Linked DNA regions of Homo sapiens: regions 1 and 3 are each linked to region 2. The links come from fine-mapping of genetic effects on gene expression. A gene starts in region 2. Each other region holds a variant in brackets. All regions are shown on one strand. Distances are between the middles of the regions. Region 1 overlaps B3GAT1 (beta-1,3-glucuronyltransferase 1). Region 2 holds the start of GLB1L2 (galactosidase beta 1 like 2). Region 3 holds the start of LOC124902798 (a long non-coding RNA gene).

Evidence for each region.
Region 1: its variant is fine-mapped to the expression of GLB1L2 in cerebellum (GTEx, PIP above 0.99).
Region 3: its variant is fine-mapped to the expression of GLB1L2 in whole blood (INTERVAL, PIP above 0.99). The same link has a PIP of 0.9 or more in nasal epithelium and sun-exposed skin.

Annotation. Positions count from the first base shown.
Region 1 is chr11:134,379,482-134,389,921 of GRCh38, forward strand. It overlaps B3GAT1 (beta-1,3-glucuronyltransferase 1), which reads right to left. Exons shown (of 6, transcript NM_054025.3): 2 at 8,067-8,459; 3 at 4,199-4,707; 4 at 3,229-3,525; 5 at 2,443-2,543; 6 at 1-1,266. The coding sequence starts at 8,178. The coding sequence ends at 2,457. Among named protein-coding and RNA genes, the nearest start is that of B3GAT1, 28 kb to the right of the region's middle. The variant A/AGT (reference allele first, on the strand shown) is at 2,825.
Region 2 is chr11:134,327,103-134,337,542 of GRCh38, forward strand. It overlaps GLB1L2 (galactosidase beta 1 like 2), which reads left to right and starts at 4,886. Exons shown (of 19, transcript NM_001370461.1): 1 at 4,886-5,045. The coding sequence starts at 4,960. RefSeq lists a silencer at 4,736-5,035.
Region 3 is chr11:134,369,499-134,378,651 of GRCh38, forward strand. GLB1L2 (galactosidase beta 1 like 2) reads left to right here. Exons shown (of 19, transcript NM_001370461.1): 11 at 307-387; 12 at 795-901; 13 at 1,510-1,650; 14 at 1,923-1,994; 15 at 2,254-2,332; 16 at 4,223-4,310; 17 at 4,647-4,758; 18 at 5,104-5,220; 19 at 5,474-6,826. The coding sequence ends at 5,560. LOC124902798 (a long non-coding RNA gene) reads left to right here and starts at 7,298. Exons shown (of 2, transcript XR_007062961.1): 1 at 7,298-7,756; 2 at 8,566-8,843. B3GAT1 (beta-1,3-glucuronyltransferase 1) reads right to left here. Exons shown (of 6, transcript NM_054025.3): 6 at 9,010-9,153. RefSeq lists an enhancer at 6,963-7,862. The variant T/C (reference allele first, on the strand shown) is at 5,892.

The DNA of each region.
Region 1 (10,440 bases), 52 kb after region 2:
GAGTTTGAGGCACACTGTTCTTTCTCCAGGATGGAAAGTGGACAGCTGGACATGAGGTGGGCTAGCTCTGCATGCTCCTGACTTAGGGAGAAATAACATTTTCTTTCCCTTTTTTGTGTTTAGAATAATTTCCAAAGCAGTGTGCTCAGGCCTCCCTCCTGCTCAGTGTCCCAGCAGCCCCTGCCCCCTCTTTCCCAGCCCCTCTGCTACTCCAGAGTCCCTCCTCCTCAGACCAGGGGCAGGAGGGAGTTAGGGAATGGCCTTGGCCTCCCTCCTCTTTCCAGGCTGCAGGAGGTCCCACCTTGCCCACCACCCACCGCCTTGCCCACTGCCCACCATGGGCTCACTCCACCCTGAGGTCTGTGGCTCTGAAGAGCTGCAGGAAAAGGCGCTTTCCCTCCCCAGTCCAGTCCAGGCGAGGGGCCTAGCAGCCGAGGTGGGCGGTGGGGAGGCAGTGTGTGGACAGTGGGGCCGTGGGGTTCTTAGTCCAGGTCAGGCAGTGACCTGTGCTGGCTCTAGAGCCTACCCCTTTGCCACTGCTGGAGGAGAAGGGGTAAAGGAAGAGGGGCCGGAGGGGGGGACTCTGCTCCCGCCACAGCCTGAGGTACAGGGGGTGCCTATTAGGCCCAGGCTCCCCCCATGCAGGGCTGGGTGCCTGTTGGGATCCAAGACAGCCTTATGCTCTGTAAACGTGAACCAGAGGAGAGCCACAGAGGTATGTCTGATTTGGGGGCAGCTCTCGGGAAGAGCAGGGGCCCAGGAGAGGAGCAGAGCGCTCGTGATGCCCGTGGGCTGCTCTCTGGTCTTCAGAATTCCCTGGCTGGGTGTCCTGTGTGGTCGTGCTGAGCCCAGGGACAGGGAGCCAGGGAGGGCCATGCTCCACTTGACTGCGGGGTCTTCTTATCTCCCTCCCGCCCTGCATCACTGCAGGGCCAGTGTGGGCGCCCACTGCACCTGCTCCTGCAGCCCCGTCAGTGCGGGGAGCTCTGGGGAGGTGCGCTGGAGCACCAGCTTGGCTGGTGCTGGACACCCCACCCTGGCCATCAGGTCTCTCGGGCCCTGGTCACGCTGGATGGAGAGAACAACAGGTCTGGGATTTCTGTGCTTAAATTCTCTGTCCTTTGTTCTGGCATCAGGCTGGGCTCTCTCAGAAGCCCCCAGAATAGAAAGGAGGGTGATGGTGATTCCTTAGGAGTCGGCCTTGGAGGGACCATCAGCCGTGGGGAGAGGATGGAAGGCCAAGAACAGGGTCTGAGGAGGAGGCTCCTGTGAGGGGAGAGGAGGAATGAGTGAGGTGTCGGCTGAGGGTGGGGCCGGGGAGGGAATGGCCAGGCAGGGCCACCAGGACCTCTGCAAAGCCCAGGCCCCCAGGTCCTGTGGGGGCCTTTCTGAGGGGCAGGTGGGGAAGGTGCTTCCAGTGAGGGCAGTGAGGGCAGGAGGCAGAAGTGAGGCTCGGTACAGATGCATTCTAAGTGGCGCTGGCCAAGGTGACTGAGTGACACCCTGTGGTCCTCTGCGGGCAAACACAATACAGAAGCTATTGCTTAGCTCCAGGGCAAGAGGACAAATGTCTGTCTCAGGCCTCAACCTCTGTTTGGCATAACCTAGAGTAGGGAGTCAGGAGTACCAGCTGCTTTTAAGAGACAGGATAAGATCACAGAAAAGCCCCTGAAAATGCCTGGCTTTGCCAACCACCCAGCACAATTCACTCGTGCCAGTGTGTCACCTTGGAACATTCATTTAGCTTCTCTCAACATCATTTCTTTGCTTCTGAAGTGTAGGTGGATCCTGTGGCCTACTTCCAGAGAGGGCTTTAAAGACTTGAATAAAAATAGCCACACTGATGAGATTTAAGTGCCATGAACTGTTCTAGGTGCTCTCAGCAACCTACTTCACAGATGAAGAAACTGAGGCCCAGAAAAGTCAAGTCAGGTCAAACAGTGAAGAGCAGGGGTCCTGGGAGCTGAGGTGGGCTCTGGGTCCGTGCTGTCACTCTGCGCTACCTCTCACTATGACAGCCGTGGGCTCATTGCTGTGGAGCAGCGAGTCCGTGAGTCCTCACCATGGCCACGTGGTGAAGGAATCCACAGGGGAAGAGGCAGACTTGGGGGGACAGACGCTGGCCAGCGAGAGTCTGAATGGCAGTGCCTTGTGGGGTGCAGGCGTCACTGCCAGCAGAAAAATCAGCAAGATGTTTGGAAGGTGACACCCTCTGAAGAGTCTGGTGGCAGAAGGACCCAGCTGCGTGGGTGAAAGTTAATGCCTGGATACTTTCAGGTGGCCCAGTGGGAAGGGGACTGTGGTGACGACGCCCTCCACTCCTGCCCACATCTGCCCTGTCCTCCACAGTGAAAGCCCAAGAGGAAAAGAATGAGACAGTTGATTCGGCCCAACCTGGTGCCGCCCTGCCCAGTGTGTGGCCCACCCTCGTCATGCCCATACCTGCATCCTGAGGCTCAGATCTCCACCGAGGGGTCAGTGAAGCCCTTCTTGCCCTCATTCACCAGCACTGGCTTCTCTGTCCGTGTGTGCCACACCAGGATCTGTGTGCCCAGAGATGCAAAACATGGTGGGACAGGCCCCTGACCTCACTCTGCTGCCTCCCTGCTCCCTCCCACACTGTGTAAACATTTCTCCTGCCCCTCCTTTTCCTTCGAGAGTTTTTCAATTGTTCCATCAAGATTTTCTCAATTGTTTTTTATTTATTTTCTGTGGCTCTCGACTACCCCCTCATTTTTGCTGTTTTTACATGTGATGCCTTCGGAATACCTGCTGGAAATGGGAAGTCTAGAACTACAGAAAAGAGAAGCCCCAAGACTTCCCA[A/AGT]GTGTGTGTGTGTGCATACGTATGCATGTTCATGTGCATATGTGTATATGTGCATGTCTGTGCATGTTCACCTGCATATATGTGTGCATGTGTGTGCATCTGCATGTGTGTGTGCGCACATGTGTGCACGCGTAGGCATGTGTGTGTGCATGAGTGCTCAGCAGGGAGGTGCTGGAGCACGGCTGTTCTGTGGGAGGTTATAACTCCCCAGTGGCCATTGCTCTCCCTTTCCCTGCCTGTCCGCAGTGTCGCTGCCTTACAGGTGATACACTGCCTTCCTGGGAGGGGGTTCCAGAAAGCCCAGGCTATTTTGAGGCCTCTGTTTCCTTCTCCCGATCTGTAGGGAGGGTCTGGATGTACTTGAGACATTGCATCACAGCTGTCAGTTCTGCGGAGGGTCTCACCTTGGTGCAGTTGGCTGCCTTGGGCTCCAGGTCGTTGAGGGTGACAAGTTCTCGAAGGAGGCTGCTTTCCTGGTAGCCTCCCTTCACACCTCGCAGCTTGAAGTAGGCCTGGCTTCGCTGCAGAATGAGCCGCAGGTTGACGGCAAATCCAGCCATGTCTATTGCAAATGGCCGGTGGGGGTCAAACACCGTCTTCCAGCCGACCACCTTCCCTGCCCCGTTCACCCGTGGGGCCTCGTACCGCAGGCCACCCACGAAGGCGACGGGCCACACGGACACCCTCCTGGTGCTGCGCATCTACAAGGGGGGGGTCCAGAGTCAGGGCGCCGGCACTGCAGATGAGGACGGCCGCGCGTGCCCAAGGGAGGCGACATCCTTCAGCCACCTCTATCTATGCCCATGGCCAGCCGCGGCCACCTAGGGGGTGTCCAGTACAGCCCTGCCCCCAGGACCCATCCCATGGGTTGGGCACCTGAGAAGAACCTGCCCTGGGCTGCCGGGGACACCTGACCTCTCAGACGGCCTGGTCTTCCCCTTCTCAGCGTGGCCCTGCTGCTGTTTTCTCCCTTGTCTAAAACCTTTCAGTCTCCCCGCTCTAGAGTGTGAAGTGACTCCCCTTGTCCCCGAGACTAACACAGCCCATATACTCAGGCGAGCTCCAACTGTTCCACCTAAGAGGTTTCTGGTAGTCACGCAGAATGACCTACTCACAAACCCATTCAGGAGATACCTCTAGGGCCAGGAATATGGTTTAGGGGCTCCAGAGCCACCTGTCTTCCCCCTAACTTGTGGGGGATGCTTTAGCCCGCAGTTCCATCCCTTTCCCTGGCTCTCTGCTGCCTGCCCCGCTCCCAGCCCGGCTTCCCGGGTTCCCCCTGCGCGCGCCTCCGCACCCACACCCCCTTCTCGGGAAGCCCCTCCACTCCCCGCAGCCGGAGGTCCCGCTGCTCACTGTCGGGCCCTCCCTCACCTCTTCGAAGAGCTCCAGGCTGTAGGTGTTGTCGTCGTCGGCGAAGTAGACCACGCCAGGCTGGCTGGAGTTGCGCGGGAAGGTCTCGCGCAGCCAGCGCAGGGCCAGGTTGCGCTGCATGGTGCCCCGCGGGATGCGTGGGTCGCGGGCGTCTCCGCGCAGCTTGTAGTTGCGGGGCGTCTCCACGTGCAGGTGCGTGTAGTTGAGGCCGGTGTCGCGCAGCAGGCGCGCGGTCAGCGGCGTCCGGCGCGGCGCATCCTCCACCACCAGCCAGTGGAGGTTGGGCACGTGCAGCAGCGTGTTGGCCATGCGCGTCAGCTCGGCCTTCTGCACCGGGCGGCTGTAGGTGGGCGTCACCACGTGGATGGTGGGCAGCGTGTCGGACCATGGCGGGGGCCGCGTGTACACGTACTCGGTGCGCACCACCTCCACGATGTCGCGGTCAGACGTGCAGTACTCCCTGGGGTCGGCGCCGGGCGGCGTTTCGCGTCGGGGGTCACTGCCCTCATCTGCGGAGTCGGGAGACCGGCGATGTGGGAGGAGAGCGCCGGCTACGGCCCTGGATTCAGAGCGGGACGCCACCCACCCTGCCAGGGCACCCTCCTCCTCCCCCGCTGCAGGGGCTGCTCAGACCCCCGCCTTGCCTGACCTGTTAGCTCTAAGGTTGAAATCTGCAGCCCTGGAATCCTCTCTGGGAGGGTCCTAGCTCTGATGACACAGACATAACCTCTTCCTTCCCACCTTTGCAGCCCTCTAGCTATTTGAGCGCAGTTGCCCATATTCCAAGATTGCATCCTCAGTTCCTGAATGTGCTGACTTTCCTATGAAAAGGCGTCCCGACCCTCCCCTCCCTAGCCCTACTCATCTGGAGGGAGCTGGCCACACTGCCCTGTGCAGGGCTGGGCTAGCAGAGCACGTGGCACTGCCCCGCTGTGGTGTGGACGCCACAAAGCCCCAGGGCCGCAGCACTGCGGCAGCAACCAGGGCCCACTGTGGGCCCGCAGGAGCCTGAGGCAGCTCCCGGAGTTCTCAAGCCCTCCAGTCAAGCGGGGCCTCTTCCCTCCTGGCCTTACGTAAGGCATTCTCTGAATCTCGGTGCAGAACTTCCTATTTCACCGCATTTTATTCTCGTGGGTTTTGCCCATAGTTGCCAAGGTATATGTAGATCTAGCAGTCCTAGCAAGAGGAGAAATCAGGGCCATTGGGATTCTTGTTTTCCATGCGTCCCTTCTCTCCAAATTCTGTCCTTCCATCGGAAGGGCTCATGCACCAATGACGGTGTGGCCCTCCTGTCCTAGCTTACCGTCGGGTGGTAAAGGTAAGAAATCCCGGTGCCTGGGCTGAGACCCTGCCCACTTCTGCCGTTACGAACCCTGTGCCCTTGAGCAAGCTGCTTAGCTTCTGGCGCCTCAATTTCAGCAACTGTAAAATGGAGCTAATAATAGCATCGAACTTATCGAGTTATTATGTGGATTAATGAGTCCACAAGGGCTGAGAGCACCGCCAGGCACAGTTTCCTCTCTTGCGGAAGGGCAGTGGCCAACTCTGCTTCCTTCTGGCTTCAGGCAATCGGTGGGGACAGAACCAGCAAGTCACACCAAAGGGGAGGACCCCGGGCATCAGCTCTTCTGCTGCCTCCCTCCGGCCACTGTCATCGGCAGCATGTGGGGTGTGTGGCACGCTAGCGTGGAGCTCATCTGAACGGACCCAGGAGGCCTGCTCGTGGCTCTTCAGGAGTTCTCATGGGCAAATGGCACCAGGCACACAGCAATTGCTGAGGGTCGGGGGAGGAAACCAGCACACACGCAGTCGCTCAGAGGGGGCTGCTTAGAGGAGTCTGGGGTCAAACTGTGAGAAGAGCAACGTGGAAGAAAGCGGGATGGGTGTCTAGGGTTCTGACCTAGACAGAGGACTTAATTCATCCTATGGGCAGTCAAGTTTTGGAAACTGAGGCCTTGAGAGGAAGTTTGGAGCCACTTTGTCCACCTCTCTGCCACCCAAATCATCCCAAGGCCGCAGAGGACCTGTGCCCTTGGACAGTCCCCATACATTAGGGCACGGCTACTGCGTGTGCTCCTGGGCTTCGCCCTTCCCATTGGCTTCAGGGCGTCTGCAATTTTGGGTCCTAAAGGCCTCCTGGTGACCCTAACTTCACTCAGCTGCAGCTTTCATTCGCTTGCTCTTGGCATGCTCTGGGGAGACAGAATGCCAAGTCCCCAGCCTCAGGCAGCACCATCAGTGCTTAGCAAACAGCCTGACGTCTCCAGCGCTGGAGCTCTGCCAAGAACGCAATCGACACGATATCATGTCGCTTTATATATAGTAGTTTTAACCCCTCTGGAGTGATGTATTTGCAAGATAACAATGATTCTGAACTGACAAGCACAGAGAAGAGGCCCTAGGGTCGGGAGGAGAGGATGATGTCAGGAAGACAGGCGCCAAGTGCCAGCCACGGGCAGTGGGCTGCCGCAATGTTGAGCTTGGCCCTTCCTCATGGAAGCTTCAGGAACAGCTATGGGTTTGCAGGACTTGGTATTTGACTGTGAGGAGCAGCACGACTTCAGGCTGTGATTTTTGGACACTGCCTGCATCTTGGGGTTACAGGCACTCACCACCTCTCTCTGCATGGGCTTGGTGCTGCCTTCTTGTTTATCACACTGCCAGGTGGTATCATGCACGCTGCAAACGAACAGCTGCCTGACCCCACGTGAGCCTGTGCATGTAAGTGGGGGAGGGGGCAGAAAAGCACGAGACAAAGTGCTGAAGAGCTGGGGCAGCCAGCTGTGGGGTGCGTGGCAGGTTTGGGAGTGAGAGGGAAAGGCGACCCAGGACCCAGAGCCAGGGGAAAGGAGTTCTACCCCTAGTTCTTCCACTAGTTCTTCACGGGACTTTTCCTCTCTCCAGCCCTATTTCCACCAGGTAGCACTAGATCAGGGTTTCCTACACAGGAAAAGAAGAGAGGCAAACAATATACTCTCTGTGAAAGGGTTTAAAACACACTGCAGGCCAGAAATCCTATTCCTCCCCCACCATCCACTTCAGAATGGTCGCTTTCCTTGCATGTCATGAAATGGCATGTGAAGTTGTACATGCGTGTCTTTCTGTGTATGTGTGTGTATTAATGATGTTTGTTTTTTAAGTTTTTCTGTATTTTAAGATGCGTCGACATCTTGGGGGACTTGCAGATATGGGGAGGGACTGCCCCTCCCGGGACTAGCTAATTCCTAGTGACAGTACACACCTTGCCTGCAAACACACTTTTCATATGCAAACTACCTGATCTAGAGCTCATACCCACTACCACCTTTATGGAGCTCTCCCACCCAAGCCAATCTTCCGCTGCCCTAAACCACCCCAGGGCGATACCAGACAATTAGAAACCACACCCATATCCTAAACCCACTGACTTTCTTCAGACTATGCAATTCTGGGCCAGCTCAGCTGCCGACAGTGCTTCGCCCTTCCCTTCCTATGAAAACCACTTTCCTTCCTACCAAAACCACACTAAAGACTCCCACTCCCTCCACTTCCCACCTCCCCCTCCCTTCACTTCCCACCTCCGACCTCAGCACTTCCCCAGGGGGCAGGGCGTGCCCCCTCCTCTTGGGTGCTGAGAGTAACAAGCTCTTCTTTCAAGGCAACTGTCTTGGTGTCTGCCAACCTACCATCCCAGGCATCTTAAAACTGTGTGGGTAGCTTCCATTAGCTTCCCATTCCCAAAGGGGTGCAAGACTCATGAAGGGGCCTAGATGATCCCGTGGTTCCTCCTAGCTGCTAAGTGAGTGCAAGCAAGAACCCTGCGTGTCAGCTGTGGTCACTGTCACTACCAAGGCCCAGCTGGGCAGGCAGGGCATGCGTGCGTGCTCACCCTTATGTACCGCGAGCAGGGGTGCGAGGGTGCTCTGGTGCCAGACAGTGATGAGCAGAGTCCAGGGCAGCACGATGAGGACGATCGCTAGGATGTCCCGTCTCTTCGGCATCTCCAAGGCTGGCTGCACCCACGGCTCCTCATTACCTGAGTGGCGGTAAGTTCAGGAGAGGGGCGGCCACGGGCGGCGGCAGCACAGGGGAGAAAAGAACAGGCATGGGCCGGGCCGGCCAGGCATGGAGAGGACAGAGCAGCTGAATGTTGGCTAGCAGGTCTTACCAGCACTCACAACCCACCCATTGCGGAAGCAGGTTTGGAGAGTCCGGCCCAACTGGAGTCTGAGAAGGGGTCGCTGTCCAGGGGCAGGGGTCAGGAACCCTGGGGGGTGGACACCTGCAAGAGAGAGCAGAAGCGGATAGCCAGAGACCCAGGTATAGGAATGGATGCCAGCAAGGCTGGGCCCTGCTCTGGGACACACAGCATCGGGGGTTCCACAATGGAGCCTCAACTGTCCATCACCTGAGGACCTCTTTTGTCTGCCTGTTAGAGTGGAATGGGCTCTGTCCTTCCCACAGGCACAGGGCCATGGCTCTGCTCCATTTATGAAAGTCAGTAGGGTGCAGGGGTCAGAAGCACAGACTGCAGAGACACCAGGTTTAAATCCCAACTGTGCCACCCACAGGCTGTAAGACCTTTGCCAAGTCATTTCCGTTCTCCATGCCACAGTTTTCCCATCTATAAAATGGGGCACTGTGGATCCCTACCTCATAAGGTCATTCTCAGAATTAAACAGGGTAACTCCCGTGCAGCCCTAAAATGCCAGCTACTTATCAAAGCCTGGATAAAGGGGTGAGAGGTTTTATTTTCTCTCTCTCTTTTTTCTTTTTTTTAACCATATATGGACCACGAATTATTATATTAAAAATAATTTCAACATTTTAGATTTGGGGGCACATGTGCAGGTTTGTTATGGGTCATATTGCATGTGATGCTGAGATCTGGAGTATGATGAATCCCGCTGCCCAGGTATGAGCATAGTACCCAACAGGGCGTTTTTCAGCCGTTCTTCCTTTGAGAGTCCTCAGTGTGTATTCTTCTCATGTTTACAGTCATGAGTACCCAGTGTTTAGCTCTCACTCATAAGTGAGAATGCATCGTGTTTGGTTTTCTGTTCCTGTGTCAATTTGCTCAGGATAATGGCCTCCAGCTGCATCCAGGCTGCTGCAAAGGCCATGATTTTGTCCTTTTTTATGGCTGTGTAGTATTCCTTGCTGTATATGCACCATGTTTTCTTTACCCAGTTCACCACTGATGGGCACCTAGATTGATTCCATGCCTTTGCTATTGGGAATAGTGCTGCGATGAACATACAGGTGCAGGTGTTTTTTTTGTGAAACACTTTATTTTCCTTTGGATACATACCCAGTAATGGGACTGCTGGCTAGAATGGCAGCTCTGTTTTAAGTTCTTGAGAGATCTCCAAATTGCTTTCCATAGTGGCTGAACTAATTTACATTCCCACCAACAGAGTATACGTGTTGCCTTTTCTCTGCAGCCTCATCAGCATCTAATATTTTTTGGCTTTTTAGTAATAGCCATTCTGACTGGTGTGAGATAGTATCTCACTGTGGTTTCAATTTGCATTTTGGTGACAGTCTTTTGAGGACAAAGAAGAGATGTTTCTGGGATGGTCCCTGGGGGGAAGTACGAGAGTGCCTTCCTCTTCCGTGTCAATAGGACATCCTTGTGGAGCACCGCTCTGTGCAGGACAGAGCACCAGGTGCTGGGCTGGGCAGCAGCAAGAAGAGGGGTCCCCGCAGGGGCTGCCACATTGAGGGGAGACAGTCCTCCAAAATGAGAACAGCAGGGGGCCCAAGTGAGGAGAATGAGCCACTGGGATTCCTCAGTCCTGCAGAGGGTCCACTGGTAGCATCTCTGGGAACCGTTCTCTCACATGGCAAGGACACTGGGCGAAGAGACCTCCTGACCGCCTTGGAAACTGTCACATCCTCTTCTCCTCCCTTTTCACTTCTGTGCTGAGCACCATGCATGATGCAGCAGGGACCCGTGGGGGTGGTGGGGAGGGCAGGCAGCCTCGGGCAGCCCAGCCAGCCTCACTGTGCCCACCCGTCCCAGTGCCCAGTGTTGGATACGGACAGTACCTCACCTGGGGGCCATGCTGCCTGCTCCTGCCCCAGCTCACGTGTGCTCACCATTTCAGGCAGAGTCGAGTGCTATGGCCGAGGAGGGTTTTTAGCCCCTGAGTTTCCAAAATAGCGTGTTTTCCTCTCCTCACCGGGTCCTCTCTCCAAATAGTTCTGACGCCTGTGGAAGACCAGGATTTGTCTTCCATTAAGGAGCACTGTGGTTTCCC
Region 2 (10,440 bases):
TGTTGCTTTAACCTCACCTGTTGGTGGCATGGTTCCTTGCCTTTTCTCAGTGTTAGGTGTGCCAGGGCTTGTCCCCATCCCCTTTCTCGGTCTGCACTTTGTTAATTGGTGCAGGTTCTTGCCTTTAAATACCAGCTCTCTGTCAACTCCTAAATTCGTATCTCCATCCCAAACCTCTTTCTGGACCATCAGGATTGATGTTCAGCAGCCTGCGTGGTGTCTCCACTCCACTCCACTCAATGCAGCAGGTCCAAGCTGAGCTACTGATGTCTCCCAGAAACTTGCCCATGACCTTCCCCATCTCAGGTCACAGCGACCAGCACTTCTTGTTTCTCAGGCCCAGCCTGTGGGAGACATTCTTAAGCCCCCTTTATTTCTCTCCCCCTACAAACAATCCACGAATTGCAACAACCCTCTCATGTCTGCTTTCCGAATACTCCCAAAAATTCAACACTTCTCACTACCTCCACCGCTGTCCCCTGAGCCAGCATCGTCTCCCATATGGATTACTGCATGGCACCAGTGATCCTTCTAAGTTATCATCACCGCCATGTTCAAACCATGCAGTGGCTCCCATTTCATTCAGAGTCAAAGCCCTGCTCTTAAAGGCCCTGCATGATCAGGCCCCTGTATCTCTCTGTCCTCATCTCCTGCCTTCTTGCCATCACCTCCCACGCTGTCCTCCTAGCCTTTCCTTGGACACCAGGGACACCAGGTCATGCTCCTTCCTGAGGGCCTTGGTACGAGCTGCTCTGTCTGCTTGGACAGTGCTTCCTCCAGGTTCTATCTTGGTTCGCTTGCATGGAGAACTCCCACTGTGTTCCGATCTTTGTTCAGCTAATGTCTTTCCGGGGAGACCGCCTCTCTGCAGACCCCTCCCCACCACATTCCCAGTCCTCCTTCCCTTATTACTTTTTTTTTTTTTTTTTTTTGAGATGGAGTCTCACTCTGTTGCCCGGGCTGGAGTGCAGTGGAATGATCTTGGCTCACTGCAACCTCCACTTTCAGGGTTCAAGCAATTTCTGGCTAATTTTTGTATTTTTAGTAGAGACGGGGTTTCACCATGTTGGCCAGACTGGTCTTGAACACCTGATCTCAAATGATCTGCCTGTCTCAGCCTCTCAAAGTGCTGGGATTACAGGCGTGAGTCACTGGGCCTGGCTCCCTTATTACTTCTTAAATTTTTGCAATGGAGTTTACTACCTTTGAATATACTCTACAGTTTACTTATTCATTCTGTTAAGTTTTATTGTCTTTCTTCCCTAGCTAGAACAGAAATTTCAAAGAGAAGAGATCTTTGTTCTGTCCACTGATACATCCCAAGCATGTGAAACAGTGTTCAGTATGTTGTTTATGGTCATTAAAATTTGTCATTTACTTTTTAATAAATACAATGCTGCAGAATTAGATCTTTGGCTATTAGGCCTTCAAAGGCTGAGCCTACAAAATGATAGTTAGGCTTGGTAAGGCCAAAGATCAAGTTCTGTGCATCCTTATCGGATGTGCACAGGCCCCTTCCAGTCCCACTCACATATCTTTGGGGCTGAAAAGCTTTGTCTACTTCCTTTATCTTAAATCTGCCTTCTCTTTTCTTTTTCCTAGGCCAAATCTCCATTCCAGGACTTTCTATTTTGTTTTGGCTAGGGTTGAAATGGCCCTCATTTATTCCCAGGAATTCTCCTGTGCTCTGAATTTCTTTGTTCAAGACCCCTGGCAACTTGACATCATAACTGGACTTTGCTTCTCCTGAGGGGAGGGTGGATGGGGGTTGCTGGACAGAGGTGTCTGTCCATAAGGAGGAGGTGGGGAGGAGAGGGTTATATCTTGGTCCAGGGGCCCAAGTGACTGTACTATCGTAGAAGCCACATTTTTCATCTTATTCTCATGACTAAAAGAAATTTTGCCAATGTTTTCCTAAAATTCAGATATCCTGTGTTTAAAGCATTAGCAGAGTGCCCTCAAAAATGAGTTACGTGAATGAATAACTGATCTGTAAACCTGTTACCTATTAAAAATAAAAAGTGAAACAGCAAATGAGACTAGTTTGACATGATCGCTTTTCCCACGTGACTTCACTGTACTGATTTTGAGCGAGTGTGGTTTTTATTCTCCTGTGTGTGCATTTTGTATGTGTTTCGGTTTCCCGCTGATTATCTGTGATACAGGAATTTTCAAGGAAGGAACTGTGCCCTCTGGGTCTGTTGGAGCTCTGACTTAGAGCAATGGAAATGGCACACCAACAAGATTTAACTTTTTTAAAAAGCATTTCTTGTATTTTCTAAACCCTGGACACTAGAAAGAAGGCCTGGGAAGAGGATGATTCCTGTGTACCAGGGATTCATTACCAAGCCAAGCACCTTGGCAGACCACTTTTTTACCCCACTCTTATGCCAGCTCATTGTAACTGTAGCTTTTGTTCCCAGGGATTTGAGTATTTTCACTGTCTGCTTTGGGTTAAGATCACTAAACATTTTGGAAAGGAGACACTGAAGGAGTATCTTGCTAATTTTTTTTTTTTTTTTTTTTTGAGACGGAGTCTCGCTCTGTCGCCCAAGCTGGAGTGCAGTGGCACGATCTCGGCTCACTGCAAGCTCTGCCTCCTGGGTTCACGCCATTCTCCTGCCTCAGCCTCTTGAGTAGCTGGGACTACAGGCGCCCGCCACTACGCCCGGCTAATTTTTGTATTTTTAGTAGAGATGGGGTTTCACCGTGTTAGCCAGGATGGTCTCGATCTCCTGACCTCGTGATCTGCCCCCCTCGGCCTCCCAAAGTGCTGGGATTCAGGCTTGAGCCACCGCACCCGGCCTAATGTTTTAAAAAACAAAAGTCTCAGGCTGGAAATGGTGACTCACGCCTGTAATCCCAGCCCTTTGGGAGGCCGAGGCAGGTGGATCACCTGAGGTCAAGAGTTTGAGATCTGCCTGGGCAACATGGTGAAACCCCGTCTCTACTAAAAATACAAAAATTAGCCGGGGAAGGTGGTGGGTGCCTGCAGTCCCACCTATTCGGGAGACTGAGGCAGGAGAATAGCTTGCATCCCGGGAGGCATTGCAGTGAGCTGAGATTGCACCACTGCACTCCAGCCTGGGTAACAGAGTGAGACTCTGTCTCAAAAAAAAAAAAAAAAGTCTCAGCCTATGAGCAAGACGCATCTCGGGTTAGTGCTAACTTTGTAGCATTCTGTGGTATCATTAAGCCCAGATAAAGTAAAATTGTTCCTAGACTGTGAGCAGGGTGTGTCCCTAGTTCTGAACATCCCACAAGGTTAAGGGGAAATTTTTTTGAAAACACTCAGTTATGTATATTTTTCTCGCACAAATAAAAACGAAGGATACAAGGGTGGGCCAAGGAGTTCACGGTTTTCACAACCCATGTTAAGTTTTTGCTAACGTTTGAAGAAAAATGGAGATGCTTGTATTGCTTAAACCATTTGAGAATTCCCTTATATTTGATAGATTCTGCCACTGTTCAACGTGACCAGAAGTGAGAGGATGAATGTGGGGTGCATGTCTTTCGGATGGTCCCCTGCAGGCAAAGGGGCTAGCCTTTGACAATTTCTCCACACGCTTCGGGGCTAGCTGGTATATTCCAATTAAACCAACATGTTTCCATCACAGACTTCATAGCCATCAAGCAATCATAGCCTTACCCAATGGAGAAAAGGAGCGGGCTTGGAGCGCGTCCACGGGAGTGGGCCTCCCTCTGCGCGCCTCTGGGAATGTTTGCGGTGCTTAAGTCAGACCCGGATTGCTCCAAGCCCAGCTTATCCTCCCCAGTTCTGCCAGGGTTTTTTTCCTCTTGTTTGTTCGTTTGTTTTTGCCTCTCTTTGATTTAACTTTTGCTCCTTGACTAAATATGTGCTTAACGCTAGACAAAGGACACTTCATACCCAAGTCTGTGTCTTTGTTCCAAGATCTGCAATTTCATTTGGTTCCTGTCGGCTTTACAAGTTCAAAACTATGCCCCCGTTTAGGAAATGAATTCAAAGCATGCGGCAAGGGAGACATTCGACAAACCCGGATGCTCTGGAAAACGTTGCCCTTCCTCGAGTTTCTTTCAGTAAAATCTGAATTTTGTTCCCGGGAGGAGTTGGGTTTGTGATTGCTACAGTGTAAGTTGCACCGAAATACTACATCATGTTCTTTGGGACATACATTCTGTTTCAGAATAAGAATGATATTCTTCCTTTCCTAAAATGTGAGAGTTTTATATGGACCTTTTTAAAATAAAAAATTGGAAGCCCTTGGAGTCAAGGCCAGAGTAAGACTCGCAGAAACCAAAGACAGAAAATATTTGGAACCCCCCCTCCTCAGACATGAACCACACTGAAATGTGTCCAGATACAATTCTTCAAAATCCTGGCTTTTCACAGGATGATTTGTTATTGAAAAAGTTGTTTGCTTCAGAATCTGAATTGTTTTAAAAGATTCTGTTGGTTGCCCCTGCTTTGCGGACGCCTTTTGTACGTTCTTCCTGATGTAGCGCTGCGAGGGGCGACTTTACCTCGGCGTTTGACAGGTACGCAGCATTCCCGCACCCGCCTGCGCCTCGCGAGCAGAAAGACGGCGGACTCTGCACCGCTCCACGACACTGGGGACCCGCCCCGGCCAGACCCGTCCCCTACCGAGACCTTGTCCCCGCCCCGCCCCCGGCCGGGGCCCCGCCCCGCCAGCCCCGCCCCCGCCAGCCCCCTCTCCTACCGAGACCTCGTCCCCGCCCACCAGCCCCGCCCCGCCCCCCCCCCGACAGAGGCCCCGCCCCGGCCCCGGCCAGCCCCGCCCCCGCTTGCGCGAGGCCTAGGGCTGCAGGCGCGGAGCCGCGAGCCCCAGCCAATGAGCGCCGGCGGGCCGGTTGCCCAGGCGACCAGTGCGCGGCTCCGCCCCCCGCGGCGAGGCTCCCGCGCGCGGCTGAGTGCGGACTGGAGTGGGAACCCGGGTCCCCGCGCTTAGAGAACACGCGATGACCACGTGGAGCCTCCGGCGGAGGCCGGCCCGCACGCTGGGACTCCTGCTGCTGGTCGTCTTGGGCTTCCTGGTGCTCCGCAGGTGAGAGAGAGCTTCGCGCAGCACCTGCCGGACCCCACATTCCCCAGCCCTCCGCACCTCGGGTTCTCTCCTCCCGCGACCCGCGAATCCCGAGTTCCCGGGGGGAGCAGCCCCAGCTGCTTCTTTCTGGGAGCTCCCCAATACCCCCGAGTTCCCCTGCGGCTGCAGGCACTCTACTCCTGCCGCGCGATCCAGGCCTCTGGGCGACACCCGGCGTGCCCTCGGGAGCCGGCGTCTGTGCCCCGAGCCGCCCACCCCGCCGCGCCTGTGACGCCGGGCTCTGCCCCCCGTGGACGCCCGCAGCCCTCCAGCCGTCAGAGCCCTCTCAGACGCACCCCATCGCGGCCCCGTCCCCACTGCTCCGCGGAGAGCTCCCTCTGCCCTTCCCCCAGGCCCCCCTTTTCCTCCCAAGCCTCTGGGAGGCGCCTTATTCCGCAGAGGCCGGCGCTTCAGCCTGGCAGGTATGGTCTAGCCAGCTGGCCTGGCAGGGTCGTAAGAACAGTGTCCGTGGGCCTCCAAGATCCCGGGCCATGATTTATTTGCACAGTAGGACTGATAGGTCGTCTCTCTCCACTTTCCCACCATTCACCTGTTACCAGCTCACCCTTTCCTCTCCCCCTTTTCCAAATGTTGTTTATGGCAAAGGAGTGGCTTCAGTGATACTGTGATTTACCCACAGCCTGTGAAAAAGTTTTCTGGGTGCCCTAGCCCAGCATTTTTCTAAACTGTGCTTATTTTAAGGATTCTACAGCCCTGACCCTATCTTTCAGGTCAGCACTTTCCATATTCAAAACCTCCAGTGGGAAGCCGACCGGCAGTATCGAATGAACTGAACGGTTGGAAGTGGTGGCAGGCCCTACGCCGCTCGGCTTTGTCATTTGCTTCTTTTTTACTTAGAGAAACTAAGTTCTTAGTTTCTCTGCACTTCCCCTGGGAGACAGGGAAGTTTTTGATGGAGATAAATATCTGGAAGTCCTTTGTGGCCAGAAGAACACACTGACAAACTCTATGTTTACACCTTGTCAAGACTGGATTCTTGTTTCTGAGATAGTGGGGACGTCATGATATTGTTTGGGAGAAGGACGGATTTTCTTCTCATTCTGGGGCCCAGAAAACTTCAGGCATTTAACTTCTCCGGTTGTTCCCAAGATGTTTTCTGTCCTGCCTAAGATCTCTAAGCCATTCCTCTCTGAAGATTGGCCCTGGCTCCTGTGGGATGCTCAGCTTTCCTCCCTGTGCAAGGCTTACGCAAACCCCAGAAGAATTACTCAGAGCAGCGGCAGCAGATCCTCCTGCATACAGCAGGGTAGCAAGGCGTGCAAGCTGCCAAGAGAAAGGCTAGCGGCTGCAGGCCTGTTGTTGGTCAGGGATACAGGAGTCCGTGCAGGGGACCCAGGCAGGTCACTATTTGGGGCAGCACTGTGGGCTTGAGATGGGCTGAGTGGTACACCCAAAAAGTCCCCAGGAAAAGGTATGCGAAGGAGGCTGAGGGTTTGTTATTGTTTGGTGGGACAGAGGTGAGGTGGCAGGGAGCTGACCTAGCTGGGAAGACGCCTGAGCTTCTTTGAGGTGAGGTAACTGTGTCCCCACCTAGGTGGGGTGACCGCACTAGGAGTCAGTCTTGGGCCATTGGAGCAGGTGGAATGGCAACAGAGAATAAAGAGCTGCAACCAAATTCTGTGAAAACAGTTTGGCCTGCCTGGGAAGGATGTTTTTCTTGCCTCTCCATCCTTCTAGCAGGTAGAACAGAAGCTCAAGGAGCTCTGAACCAAGTTCAGGGCCGTGTCTTCAGATCCTGTGGAATACGTGTCTTTTTGGCATCTTTTTGATTTTTTCACCCTCATGGGTACATTCTGCCAGTTCCTCCTGTCTGACTTGGGCTGGACACCAGTGAGTATGAGTTGCTGTAATATCTCTGGAGGCAGGAGGAGAACATCCTCTTTGTCTTTCCCTCTTCCTGTCTTGCCCCAGCTCTGACTGGGTCATTAACTGAGTGGGAGGTGGGGCCTCTCCCAGCTGTTACTGGGCAGTGTTGAGGTGGCCAGTGGAATATAGGTCACGTGGAAACTGGCCACCAAGTTCACTCTTTGTGGAGCCGAGCTGTCAGGAGCAGCCCCTTTCCTGTAGCAGAAGGCAGGTATTTGGACAGTGGCTGGCATGGGCTGGGGGATGTTTGGCTATAGCTTTTCTTTTTTTTCATCAACTTTTCCTTGGGCTGGTTCACGGTCAGTCATAGCTGGTGGGTTACATCATATCAAAAGACTAGGATGACCAGGTTGACTTTTGGGGAGGATTTCAGTCTTAGAATTTTTATTTTTATTTTTTTTAAGCGTAAACAGTGGTCTTTCTTAAAAATTACCTTTATTGGAGTTTAATTAATATGTACAATTTGATAAGCTTTGACACATATCTAAATCCAGCTGTGAATCTATCACCACAGTTAAGATTGTGAAAACAGCCACCAGCCCCCAAAGTTTCCATGTACCTCTCTGTCATCCCTCCCTCCTACTCCTCCCTGCTCCCCAGCCCCAAGCAACCACTGATCTGTTGCTTTCCGACACGATATATTGGTTTGCATTTTCTAGTGTTTTATAGAATTGTAATCTTAAAGCATGTTTTCCTTTTTGGTCTGGCTTCTTTCACTCAGAGTATTATTTTGAGGTCTGCGATGCACGTATCAGTGCGAACCGTGCCTTTGAGCCAGTTGCCTTTCATTCTCTTCCTATTCGCACTCCATGAACACAAGAATGCCTGCTTGATATTATCTAAAGGCATGGTTCTCATTCATGATTTTTTCCTTAATATAAATGAATCACCGAGCAAGAATACAGGCAACGCTGCATCTCTCATACCTGAAATTTTAGCTGGGAAAGTTGGGAGAGGGGAAAGCCTTCATGTGGGCAGCCAGCATCATGCTCCTAAGAGGTAAGTTCATTTCTTCTCTGAGGTCCGTCTCACACACTGCCCTGCCCTGCTGTTTTCTTTATTCCAGACCCCAAATTCTTCCTATAGAAAGGAAAAGGAGGAGATGTATCAAACTCTTTCTCCTGAACAAGGTGGCTAACTTAGCAATGCAGGTCACTTTTTTTTTTTTATGTGAATCATGGCCAGTCCTGTCTTCCAAGGGTATGTGGCCAAATCATGCCTCTCCTCTGGAGCTTCTGGGAGGTAATTGATTTTATGGGCCTTGCCTATTCTAGGACTCTTCTCTGCTTGAGGCCTGAGTCATATTTCATGGAATGTTCAAACTCTTTGAACAGTGTTCCTTTCATCTTGTAGTAGTAAAGTTTTCAGCATCGGGGAAGTGTCTCTTTCAGCAGGTGATCACCTGTTGGATACAGGTGTTGAGGGATGTCTGAATCACCCTGTGCTAGGAAGATCGAGTTGGCTCTGGGATTCTTACAGGACCATGCTAGCCACCAGCAGAAGGAGACCAGAGTTGTCTTGGAGCAGCCATAGTATTGGTATAGGTGTGATTCAAGGGAGGGACTGGGCTACCAAGAAGATTGGAGACAAAGAGCCTGGGCTGCAGAAATAGCAGAAAGTTGACCAAAGGGTTCTTCCCACCTTAAGGTAAGGAAGTGGCAAGTGAAATAAAAACATGTAGTCCTTGATGAAGTGGTGCAGAGTTCCACGAGGTCATGTCAGACGCTCTTCTGGGAAGAATTCAGGAGATGCTGTAGCTTGCGGAGAAAGGTTTGAGAACATTTGGACCTGAAAAGGACTCTGGGGTCTAGGCACGTCCTCCCTCCCTCCCTCTCCACCATCACCAGCAGGGGCAGGGTTTTTTGGTGTCAATGTTGGGATATTTGCTGCTTCCTCTCCACTCAGTTTTAGCTTTTGCTTAAATCTATTGCTCTGGATATTAAAGACCGTATTGAAAAAGAGTTCTCATGTGTGGATGTCTCCTGGGATAGAAAGGCAGCAGGTGTTTTTAGAGGCTCCTGCTAACGAGGTAGATATTTCTTGACTCGTGTCTGCCTGTTAGAGACTCCTTGTTGATACTCACAGCTTCTGTTCTTTGACACTCAGCGAAACAGTCAGTGGGCTTGTTCCTTTCAAGCACAGATTGTATTTTTTTCCCTTAAGAAGTTATTTTGTGAGTAGGCAATTAATGAACATGGTAAGTATTCAGAGTGTGAAGGGGAATAAAGTGAAAAGAAACTCCCATTCCTGGCCCCTAGGCTAGGCACCCTTCCCTATCCCCTATTCATATCAGCTGTTACTACTGGTAATGGCTTCTTTCAGAAATATTCTATGCATATACAAGAAGATAGCTACACATATTATCCCACTTGTCCATTAGACACATAATTTATTTAAACAGCCTTCTACTGATGGACATCGATTGTTTGCAATCTTTTAGCTACTGTAAACAAAGCTGCTGCAGATATCTGTTGGATGTATTTCTATAAGTAGAATTGCTGACCGTAGGATAGATTCATTTTAAATCTTGATAGACATTTCCAAATAGTACATTTTATTTCTGTTGGATCAATGTAAAGGAGATTCCGAGCCCAACTCAATAGGGCCAAGTCGATTCTTGAGTCTTGTAAGAGCCAGTGCATCTCTTGTATATCTTCATAGATAAGTCCTATGTGGTGGATTAAAAAAAAATTTAACATAATAATGTTTTTCCGTATTTGTGATATCATTTCATTTAGAGTCTACAAGCATCTTGAAGATCAGGGGCTTGTTATCAAGAGTAGAGGCCTTGTGTTATCTAACAGAGCTTTCTCTCTGGGTGAGACACAGTCCTTTTCCTGTTTATGATGCTGTCAATGGTCCCAAAGTACTGCAAAAGTACAGAGTAACAGAATGTTAGAACACTTTTTGTTGTTGTTATTGTTGTTATATGGTTGATTAGAGTGAGGGGTTTTTGTTACTTTACTATTGGATCTCAAGGTTTTGGTCTAGTAAACTCTTCTTCATGTACTCACTTCCTACAGTCTTTAGGAAATAACTGCTCTCTGAACCACCAATATTGCTTCCGGGTCAGAGCCTGGATGTGAGGCCAGGGTTCCTGCCTTACCTGGGAGCCTTTTCAAAGGAAAAAGCAGAGGAGCTAGGATGGCAAGAGTGCTGTGGACCTCTTGCTGGGGACCTCACATCTCTGCAAGATGCATATACTTGCCTTGGGAATGGCAGGCCAAAGCCCTTGGGCGTATTTAATGCCTCTCCCAGCAAACAGGAGTCCAACACCTTGGGCCCAGACCAAGGAGCACATATAGAAAGCTGGGCCAGAAACAGGGACCGACTTCCATTTCCCTGAGGCTGAAGTTCCTGGAGCCCGGGGATTGGTCCAAGAGGCAATATTTTGGAGTAGAGGCATTAAGGGCACCATCTGGGCCAAAGAGTGAATAGTTCCTTCTTCAGGCCCTCAAATTCTTTTGCT
Region 3 (9,153 bases), 42 kb after region 2:
CTTGCCTTGGCCTCCCAAAGTGCTGGGATTACAGGTGTGAGCCACTGCACAAGCGATCCTCCTGCCTTGGCCTCCCAAAGTGCTGGGATTGCAGGTGTGAGCCGCTGCACCTGGCCTTATGGACGCTTGTTGTAGTTGCCTGGTCTTTCATGTTTACAGTATTTTGACTGAATGGCTCAAAAGTGTCTTGCCTCCCCAATGGCTGAGATGAAGACCTGTGGCCCTTCCAAGCTTCTCCCTGTTCTTCGTGCTACATGTGCTGTGCTGGGGACAGGAATGACCATGACAGGGCCCGGTGTCTTGCAGACTATGATGCTGTGCTGACAGAAGCCGGCGATTACACGGCCAAGTACATGAAGCTTCGAGACTTCTTCGGCTCCATCTCAGGTACCCAGCAGACAGCAGACTCAAGTTCCAACTCAGGCCCTCGCTTCTGCTCTCAGACCCCTAAAGAGTTACTTCCTTACTGTCCCACCTCGACCCCAGTTGATCTGCGTGCAAGAATATCCTAGACAAGGACAGGGAGGTGTGTGAGGCTGTTTCCATCTTGCCGGCTTCACCTGTTACAGGTGTTAACGCTCCTTATCTCCTGTGGAGGACGGGAGAACGCCCTGGCTTTCCCCCAGGCCTGGCCTTCCTCCCTGGCCTCAGCAGGTGCTGAGAGCTAGCCTGTTGTTCCTCTTGGTGCTGGGACGCAGGAGCACATCGGGTCTGTGGATGGGAGCCGGGTGGGGAGGACGAGCAGGCAGTGACATTTGGGTCCGTTGGGGGTGACCCTGTTTTCTGTGTTGCAGGCATCCCTCTCCCTCCCCCACCTGACCTTCTTCCCAAGATGCCGTATGAGCCCTTAACGCCAGTCTTGTACCTGTCTCTGTGGGACGCCCTCAAGTACCTGGGGGAGGTGAGTGCTGTGGGCAGTCATCGGGAGGTGAGTGAGTGCCGGGGGCAGTCGTTGGCAGGGAGGTGAGTGCTGGGGGCAGTCGTCGGCGGGAGGTGAGAGTCGTCGGGGCAGCAGGGCCTGGAGCCCCTCCAGACAGGGAGTGTGGGGGGAGGCAGGCCAGTGCCTGGTGGCTCTGGGGTCTGCTCTCCGGCCTTGGAGCTCAGAGGGAAGAGGACAGACTCATGCTGGAGTGTGAAGTGGGAGAAACAGAGGTCCCTGAGGAACAGCGGCTGGCCCCGTGGGCCTTTCCTTCCTCCAGCCTCAGAGAGGAGAGTGAGGGGCAGAGGAACAGGCCGTCCCCTCCCCAAGAAGGGGGTGCCTCCTCCGGCGGACTGAGGCTGTGATGTGTGTCCCCTGCCTGCGGACTGCACTCTGCTGGTGCACACCCCTTTGCCCCACTCCTCTTCCCCGTCACCCTGGAGAGTTGTATGTTTAGTGCAATGAGAAGTCAAAGTAGAAAACACCCACCAAACCTCCGCTTCCACCCCATGTGCCAGCCCCCAGGCAGAGTCTGTCTGTGACCCCACTCCTCCTGAGCCTGCCCACCCCTCCATCTCTTCTGTACGCAGCCAATCAAGTCTGAAAAGCCCATCAACATGGAGAACCTGCCAGTCAATGGGGGAAATGGACAGTCCTTCGGGTACATTCTCTATGAGACCAGCATCACCTCGTCTGGCATCCTCAGTGGCCACGTGCATGATCGGGGGCAGGTAGGAGCTTCTCTTCTAAATTCCTGTGACCTTCTGGTGAGCAGCTCTGCAATAGGCGTCTCATGCCCTCCCCTCAGAATCAGCTCTTACCAGTGTGTGACAATGGCCCTTCTGAGTCAGCTCTGTGAGCCTTCAGGGGGCATTCATGTCTGCTCTGCCCACTGGCCCCTCGTCTGCCTACAGGCACGCGTGCTGCCCTTCTTGGCCTGGAGGAGGTCCCGCTTACCCTCCTCCTGTTGGTCATGGATGTTCCTGCCTGTTCCCTTTGGCAGGTGTTTGTGAACACAGTATCCATAGGATTCTTGGACTACAAGACAACGAAGATTGCTGTCCCCCTGATCCAGGTTCGTTGTTTTTGGGAGCTGGGTGATGGCTAGCCCCCGCTGCTTCGAGGAAGTCTGGGGGCAGTCACTGAGGAAAACCTGGGAGACCCGTGGCTCCTTACCCACAAGCTGTAGGTGGAGAGGGCGAGTGTGGCTTTCTGCCCAGCTGGGATGTACACTCCCATCCCCAGAGCGTAGGGAAGAACTGGGGTCCACAAGCAAATTCTGAGGGGCAGCTGTGGCCTTCTGACAGTCATCGTTAGCCCCGTGTTCCCGGCAGGGTTACACCGTGCTGAGGATCTTGGTGGAGAATCGTGGGCGAGTCAACTATGGGGAGAATATTGATGACCAGCGCAAAGGTGGGTCCCAGAATGTGTCAAAAGAAGAGTGGCCATGCTGGACACACAGGTGGCTATTGCTTCTCTATGCTAGCAGGCCACCAGGCCATGGAGGCCTCTTGCAGGGAGGTGGAGGCTGGGTTGTCCCATACATGAGGCCAGTTCTGAGTGGGCCAGAGAAACTCCGCTGGGCTGTGGCCCCTGTCCTGTTAGCACTGCACGCGTGCATCGTCTGCGTGCTCGTGATAAACACTGTGAACACTGAGCTGGCCTCTTGTCTCCCCTGGGCTGCAGTCGGTTTCTGCAAGGATGTCTGCTTGGGGGGGCGGCAGTGAGGAGCAATGAATGTGATTTCCAGGAATCCAAGGAAAGGCACAAGACCCCTGCCTTCTTGGGCCTCCACACTGAAGTTCTCTTCTTGATCCATCTTGGGAAAGCTTATCTCAGATGTTGGGGGAGGAGGATGCGGGACATACAGCAAACAAAACACCTGTTGGTAGCGTACCCCTCTGGGAATAGGCCGCCAATTTGCTTTATGTTTCCTGGCCTACTAAATCTTTTATGCTTTAATTTAGCCCTTCCTTTTTTTTTTTGAGACGGAGTCTCGCTCTTTCACCCAGGCCAGACTGCAGTGGTGCAATCTCGGCTCACTGCATGCTCCACCTCCCGGGTTCATGCCATTCTCCTGCCTCAGCCTCCCGAGTAGCTGGGACTACAGGCGCCCGCCACCGTGCCCAAATTTAGCCCTTCCTTTTTAAAAAAAATCTAGCTAAATGTGGGTGGTTTCAGGTAAGTTATAAAAAAAGAACTCAGAACAAAATGAATGCGACTGTGGTGAGCAGCACCGGTGACCTCCCAGCTCTCTCACGGTGTCTGCGTTTGTGACGGAGGAAACTTGAAGAGCTCTTATTGGTCCACATTTCCTCCGAGAGCCGTCTGGTGGCCTGCCAGGAAAGCCACGTGGCCCAGACACTGGGGCCTGGATCCTGGGGATCAGGGCCCTTCTAGATGGGCCTCAGAGCGGCATCTAGCACCACCCAGGCCCACACTCCTTTACCCTAGACAGCTCCCTCTCTGGGCCTGTCCTCACTTCTGTTGTTCTCCTGGGAGTTGGAAGGAGCACCAGCCTGACCATTGTTCCTAACTTTGCTTCCCTGAGCCCTTGTTGAGGGTCCCCTGGGCCCACACTGTGGAGTCCTGTCCTCTGGATCACAGTTCAATGTTTATAAGTCACAGACCTCCCTTGAGAAATGCGCGTGCCCACATAGACCCGCACCTGCCATTTCGGAGTCTGTAGGCCCTGCAAAGCCTCTCCACAGTCCTCGGCCTCCAAATTCCCAAGCTAGCCACTCAGCAGCTCTGTAATCTGAGACTGGCAGGGCTGGCCCGGCCCCGGGACACTGATGAGTGGCTCCTCAAGAGGACACATCTCTTCCCTGTTGGATGCCCGAGGGAGGGTGCCATCTGCTCACAGTCCAAACACTCCTAATGCACAGCTTTAATCCTAGGTGGCAGAGATGATTCTGGCTGAGTTATTAGGTCTGTGTAGCTTGGGCCCCACTGAAACTGGCCCTGCAGCTAGGCCAGAACCCTCTCGGTCATCTGGAACTTCCTTCAGAGAGAGGCCAGAGGTTGTTCTCGCCCTGTAACACCTCAGCTCTATATCCTTCCCATGGCAAATCTTAGGGTCTTCCTCCTTCCCGTCCCCCACAGAATTGCTAGGGAGCTTTGCTTGCAAGCGAACGGCTTCCCAGGGAGCGTACACTTCAGTACCCCTCACCCCAGCTTCTCAGGGAGCGTACACTTCAGCACCCCTCACCCCAGCTTCCCAGGGCTTCCCCTCGTGGCCCCGGCCCAGCTGACTCGGCCCCTGCCTTTGGGCTACCCACGTGTCCTGCCTCCCTCCCACAGGCTTAATTGGAAATCTCTATCTGAATGATTCACCCCTGAAAAACTTCAGAATCTATAGCCTGGATATGAAGAAGAGCTTCTTTCAGAGGTGGGTCCCTGCCCAGCACCAGCCCTTGCACTCACAGGTATAGTGCTGTGTGGTGGGGCCCAGGGGTCCCTGGTGCACCGTGGCCTGGCCCGCACCCAGGTGTGAACGCCTCCAGGGGCCAGATCGGCTGGCCGAGGTGAGGGGTGGCACCCGCACTAGAAGCCGCATTTGCAGACTAGGAATTCCCAGCATCCTACCGTGCTGCCATTCTGTGTCCTGGTTAAGAGGCGGGGGGCCTTGGATGGGGAAACGGTGTCAGGGCCTTTTATTTTGCTTTATTGTGCTGGTGGATTGAGAAGGGCCTCCTCCCTCTCCTTCTCTGTGTTCTGTCCTTAGGTTCGGCCTGGACAAATGGAGTTCCCTCCCAGAAACACCCACATTACCTGCTTTCTTCTTGGGTAGCTTGTCCATCAGCTCCACCCCTTGTGACACCTTTCTGAAGCTGGAGGTTGGTAACGCCCTTTTCCCTGCCAGTTTCTCCCACCTGCCTCCCGCCTTGGAGGGCTCTGAGCCAAAGCCACGAGCTTGGCGAGAGTCGTTGGTGGCTTCTGTGCCCAGAGGGTCTGAGAGGGCCGCTGGGGCCTCCCTGGGCCAGAGGAGTGGGTTCCCAGCAGAAGAAACACCTCATGCACTAGGGGGACAGGAAATAGAGCATCCCACCTGCCCACCCTCATGGCTGTCCAGACACAGCTCGCTTTGGTCTCCTGGACCTGAGAGAAGCACGCATGCATGTCTCCCTCCACTTTTGCTGTGGCTCTCGTGGTAGATGAACACCCTTCCCCTCTGTTTCAAGGGCTGGGAGAAGGGGGTTGTATTCATCAATGGCCAGAACCTTGGACGTTACTGGAACATTGGACCCCAGAAGACGCTTTACCTCCCAGGTCCCTGGTTGAGCAGCGGAATCAACCAGGTGGGAGCTTCCAGCCCCTTCCTGTTCCCCATGACGCCCTGCCCACCTGCCGTCCCAGGGAGCCTTCGGTCAGGGTGGAGGGGCGTGTCAGCGGGTTCTTCCTCCCTCCTCCTCGCTGCAGACGAGTTGTTGGTCCCTGTCCCTTCCAGCCTGGTTCCCAAACCCTTTCCTTCTGACCCTGCCACCTCTCAGCACCTCCCCTGGCTCCAGGACAGACGTCAGCTGCCCTCCCAGCCGGGCCCTCTCTCCACAGGTCATCGTTTTTGAGGAGACGATGGCGGGCCCTGCATTACAGTTCACGGAAACCCCCCACCTGGGCAGGAACCAGTACATTAAGTGAGCGGTGGCACCCCCTCCTGCTGGTGCCAGTGGGAGACTGCCGCCTCCTCTTGACCTGAAGCCTGGTGGCTGCTGCCCCACCCCTCACTGCAAAAGCATCTCCTTAAGTAGCAACCTCAGGGACTGGGGGCTACAGTCTGCCCCTGTCTCAGCTCAAAACCCTAAGCCTGCAGGGAAAGGTGGGATGGCTCTGGGCCTGGCTTTGTTGATGATGGCTTTCCTACAGCCCTGCTCTTGTGCCGAGGCTGTCGGGCTGTCTCTAGGGTGGGAGCAGCTAATCAGATCGCCCAGCCTTTGGCCCTCAGAAAAAGTGCTGAAACGTGCCCTTGCAC[T/C]GGACGTCACAGCCCTGCGAGCATCTGCTGGACTCAGGCGTGCTCTTTGCTGGTTCCTGGGAGGCTTGGCCACATCCCTCATGGCCCCATTTTATCCCCGAAATCCTGGGTGTGTCACCAGTGTAGAGGGTGGGGAAGGGGTGTCTCACCTGAGCTGACTTTGTTCTTCCTTCACAACCTTCTGAGCCTTCTTTGGGATTCTGGAAGGAACTCGGCGTGAGAAACATGTGACTTCCCCTTTCCCTTCCCACTCGCTGCTTCCCACAGGGTGACAGGCTGGGCTGGAGAAACAGAAATCCTCACCCTGCGTCTTCCCAAGTTAGCAGGTGTCTCTGGTGTTCAGTGAGGAGGACATGTGAGTCCTGGCAGAAGCCATGGCCCATGTCTGCACATCCAGGGAGGAGGACAGAAGGCCCAGCTCACATGTGAGTCCTGGCAGAAGCCATGGCCCATGTCTGCACATCCAGGGAGGAGGACAGAAGGCCCAGCTCACATGTGAGTCCTGGCAGAAGCCATGGCCCATGTCTGCACATCCAGGGAGGAGGACAGAAGGCCCAGCTCACATGTGAGTCCTGGCAGAAGCCATGGCCCATGTCTGCACATCCAGGGAGGAGGACAGAAGGCCCAGCTCACATGTGAGTCCTGGCAGAAGCCATGGCCCATGTCTGCACATCCAGGGAGGAGGACAGAAGGCCCAGCTCACATGTGAGTCCTGGCAGAAGCCATGGCCCATGTCTGCACATCCAGGGAGGAGGACAGAAGGCCCAGCTCAGTGGCCCCCGCCCCCCACCCCCCACGCCCGAACAGCAGGGGCAGAGCAGCCCTCCTTCGAAGTGTGTCCAAGTCCGCATTTGAGCCTTGTTCTGGGGCCCAGCCCAACACCTGGCTTGGGCTCACTGTCCTGAGTTGCAGTAAAGCTATAACCTTGAATCACACCCCCTCTGGTGATAGTCTCTGGTCATGTGTGCCACTCTTGCCAGAAGGGAAGGCTGTCTGAGAGCTTGGTTTTCTTGGTCAGGTTCCCATTGGGCCCCACTTGCCGCCTGGGGGTCCAGATGGGGACCGTCCCTGGGGTGGGTGGGCCATGATCCTGGCCTCATATTCCCCTCCTGACCCCGACTTCCCTTCAAATGTCTCTGGATTGGAAGTGCCCTGGAGAGGACAGTTCAAATGCAAATTCATTCTCATGCTGGTGGGCGGGGGTAAGAATCTGCCAGGCAGTCAAGGGCGCTCCATATGAGTTAACTGCGGGGTTGAGTTTTGCTTCACAAACTACATCTGGCATCTACTGCCAAAACCAAATTATCTCCAGTAAGAGTCAGAAAGTCAAGTAGCACACACATCCCCGGCACAGCGAGAGCTCTGGGAGCCCCGTGAAGGTGGGCTGGGGGATGGTGAGCCGTGGAGCTCACTGAGGCCAGCAGGCTTGCTGCCCGTGTGTGGCTGCCCAGGGGGAGTGCAGGGGACATTCGTGGTGTGCAGCCCAGCAGCTGAGCCGGGTCAAGGGCTTATTAAATGGAGCTTATTAAAGGAAAGCTTGTGGACAGTGGCTTGGGAACAACATGGGGCAGAGTCCCTGGTTTTGCCCAAACTCACCAGTTCTTCTGGAACTGCCTCGGAACGACAAGCATGGGGCTAAGATGTGGATGAGACTCGGGCTACTTGGGTGTGGCCTGAGCCACCTGCAGGGTCTTCTGCCCCGCTTTACCTGAGTGTGTGCTTCTGCAGAGCTGTGTATGAGCTGGTTCCGTCAGAAAGTGATGGAATGGAAGGGAACCTTCCTGCAAATCCTCCTGTAAGGTGGAGAAGCCCCTTGGATCACACTTCCACGCAGACCTGAGCAGGACACACTGTGGTTTCCTAAGGTGAGGTCTTCCTACACCAGCTTCTTATTCTCACCCTTATTTTCTGCCAGTTAATTGCTCAGCTTCTCTATCAAAGTACCTCTTGGCAGAGCTTATTCTCCAGCGTTGACTAAAGATGTTTCCATTATCTTCCACACGGTATGGCCTCATCTAGGTCTCTTTGGAGAATCCCTCTTCATATCCAGCCTCTGAATGCTGGGGGTCTCTGGCCCACTCCTTGGGCTGTTTCTTTCCTCTGTCCACACTCACTGCATAGGGTCTCACCCGTGCACCTGTGGTTTGTAAACAGGTTGGACACCCGCGCCCGCCGATGCTGGGCTGCACCTGAGCTCCAGGTGTGTGGGGGCGCATTTTCTTCTGCATGTGTCTAACAGGCACCTGACACAGAGCTCCATTTCCCCACATTACCCCTCCTGCACGCAGCCCTGTATCTGGAAATGGCAGTGCTGTTCTGTGTCTCGGGCTATTTTGGACCCCTCTCTTTATCTCCCACATCCAATCCAGCAGCAGATCCTCCTGGCTCTGCCTCCTAAACTTGGCCAAAATTTGACTGCTTCTCTCTGCCCCAACCCCATGCCCCCACTCAGCCCACTGCATCTTGGCCTGGATGATTCCAGGAGCCACGTCTCCACCTGCCCTTGCCCTCTCCATTTATCCTCCGTGGAGGAGCAGGGCAGTTCTTCTTAGAGATGGATAGATTATGTTAGTCCTCCGTACTGGACCCCCTATTGCCTTCTGGTTTCACCCGGTGCCTGGGGACTCCCTTCTCCCACGCCCACCACATCCCTCACTGCTGTTGCCCCCAGCAGCCCCCGCCCCGTCAGTTGAGCCCGATGGCCTTCCTGCTGATCTGTAAGCAGGCTGAGCAACGCTTGTTCCGCCTGGTGGAGAGTTCGTTCTTCTTGGGCCCGGGGAGCTGCATGTCAGGGTGTTGCTGCTTCGCTCAAGGGTCACTTATCACGGAGGCCTCTGTGGTCACCCTACAGAGCACTGACCCTCTCCACTGCTACCTCTGTCTCCCCGACTCACCCTCATCCTCCATACAACAGATTGCATCTGAAATAATATGCATTCGTTATTGCCTGTCTCCTCTCGTCAGTGGGTCAGTTCTTTGAAAATGAGAGCCTTGTTTTCTCACTGCTGTGTGTCGGCTCCTAGAATGATGCCTGTTCATAACAGGCACCTGATACATACTTGTTGGGTAGCTAAATTAATAAATGAGAACAAAATAAGGCAGGGCTGAAGAGGATTAGGACTGTTAAAAACTGTATTTGACTTTTAATTTTGAAAGCAAATTAAATACAGTTAAATTAAAACAGACCAGATGCAGCTGCCTGGGTGCCACCCTCACCCCAGCCTCTGTTCTTAGAACTCCTAGCCCCTGGCCTCACTCCTGT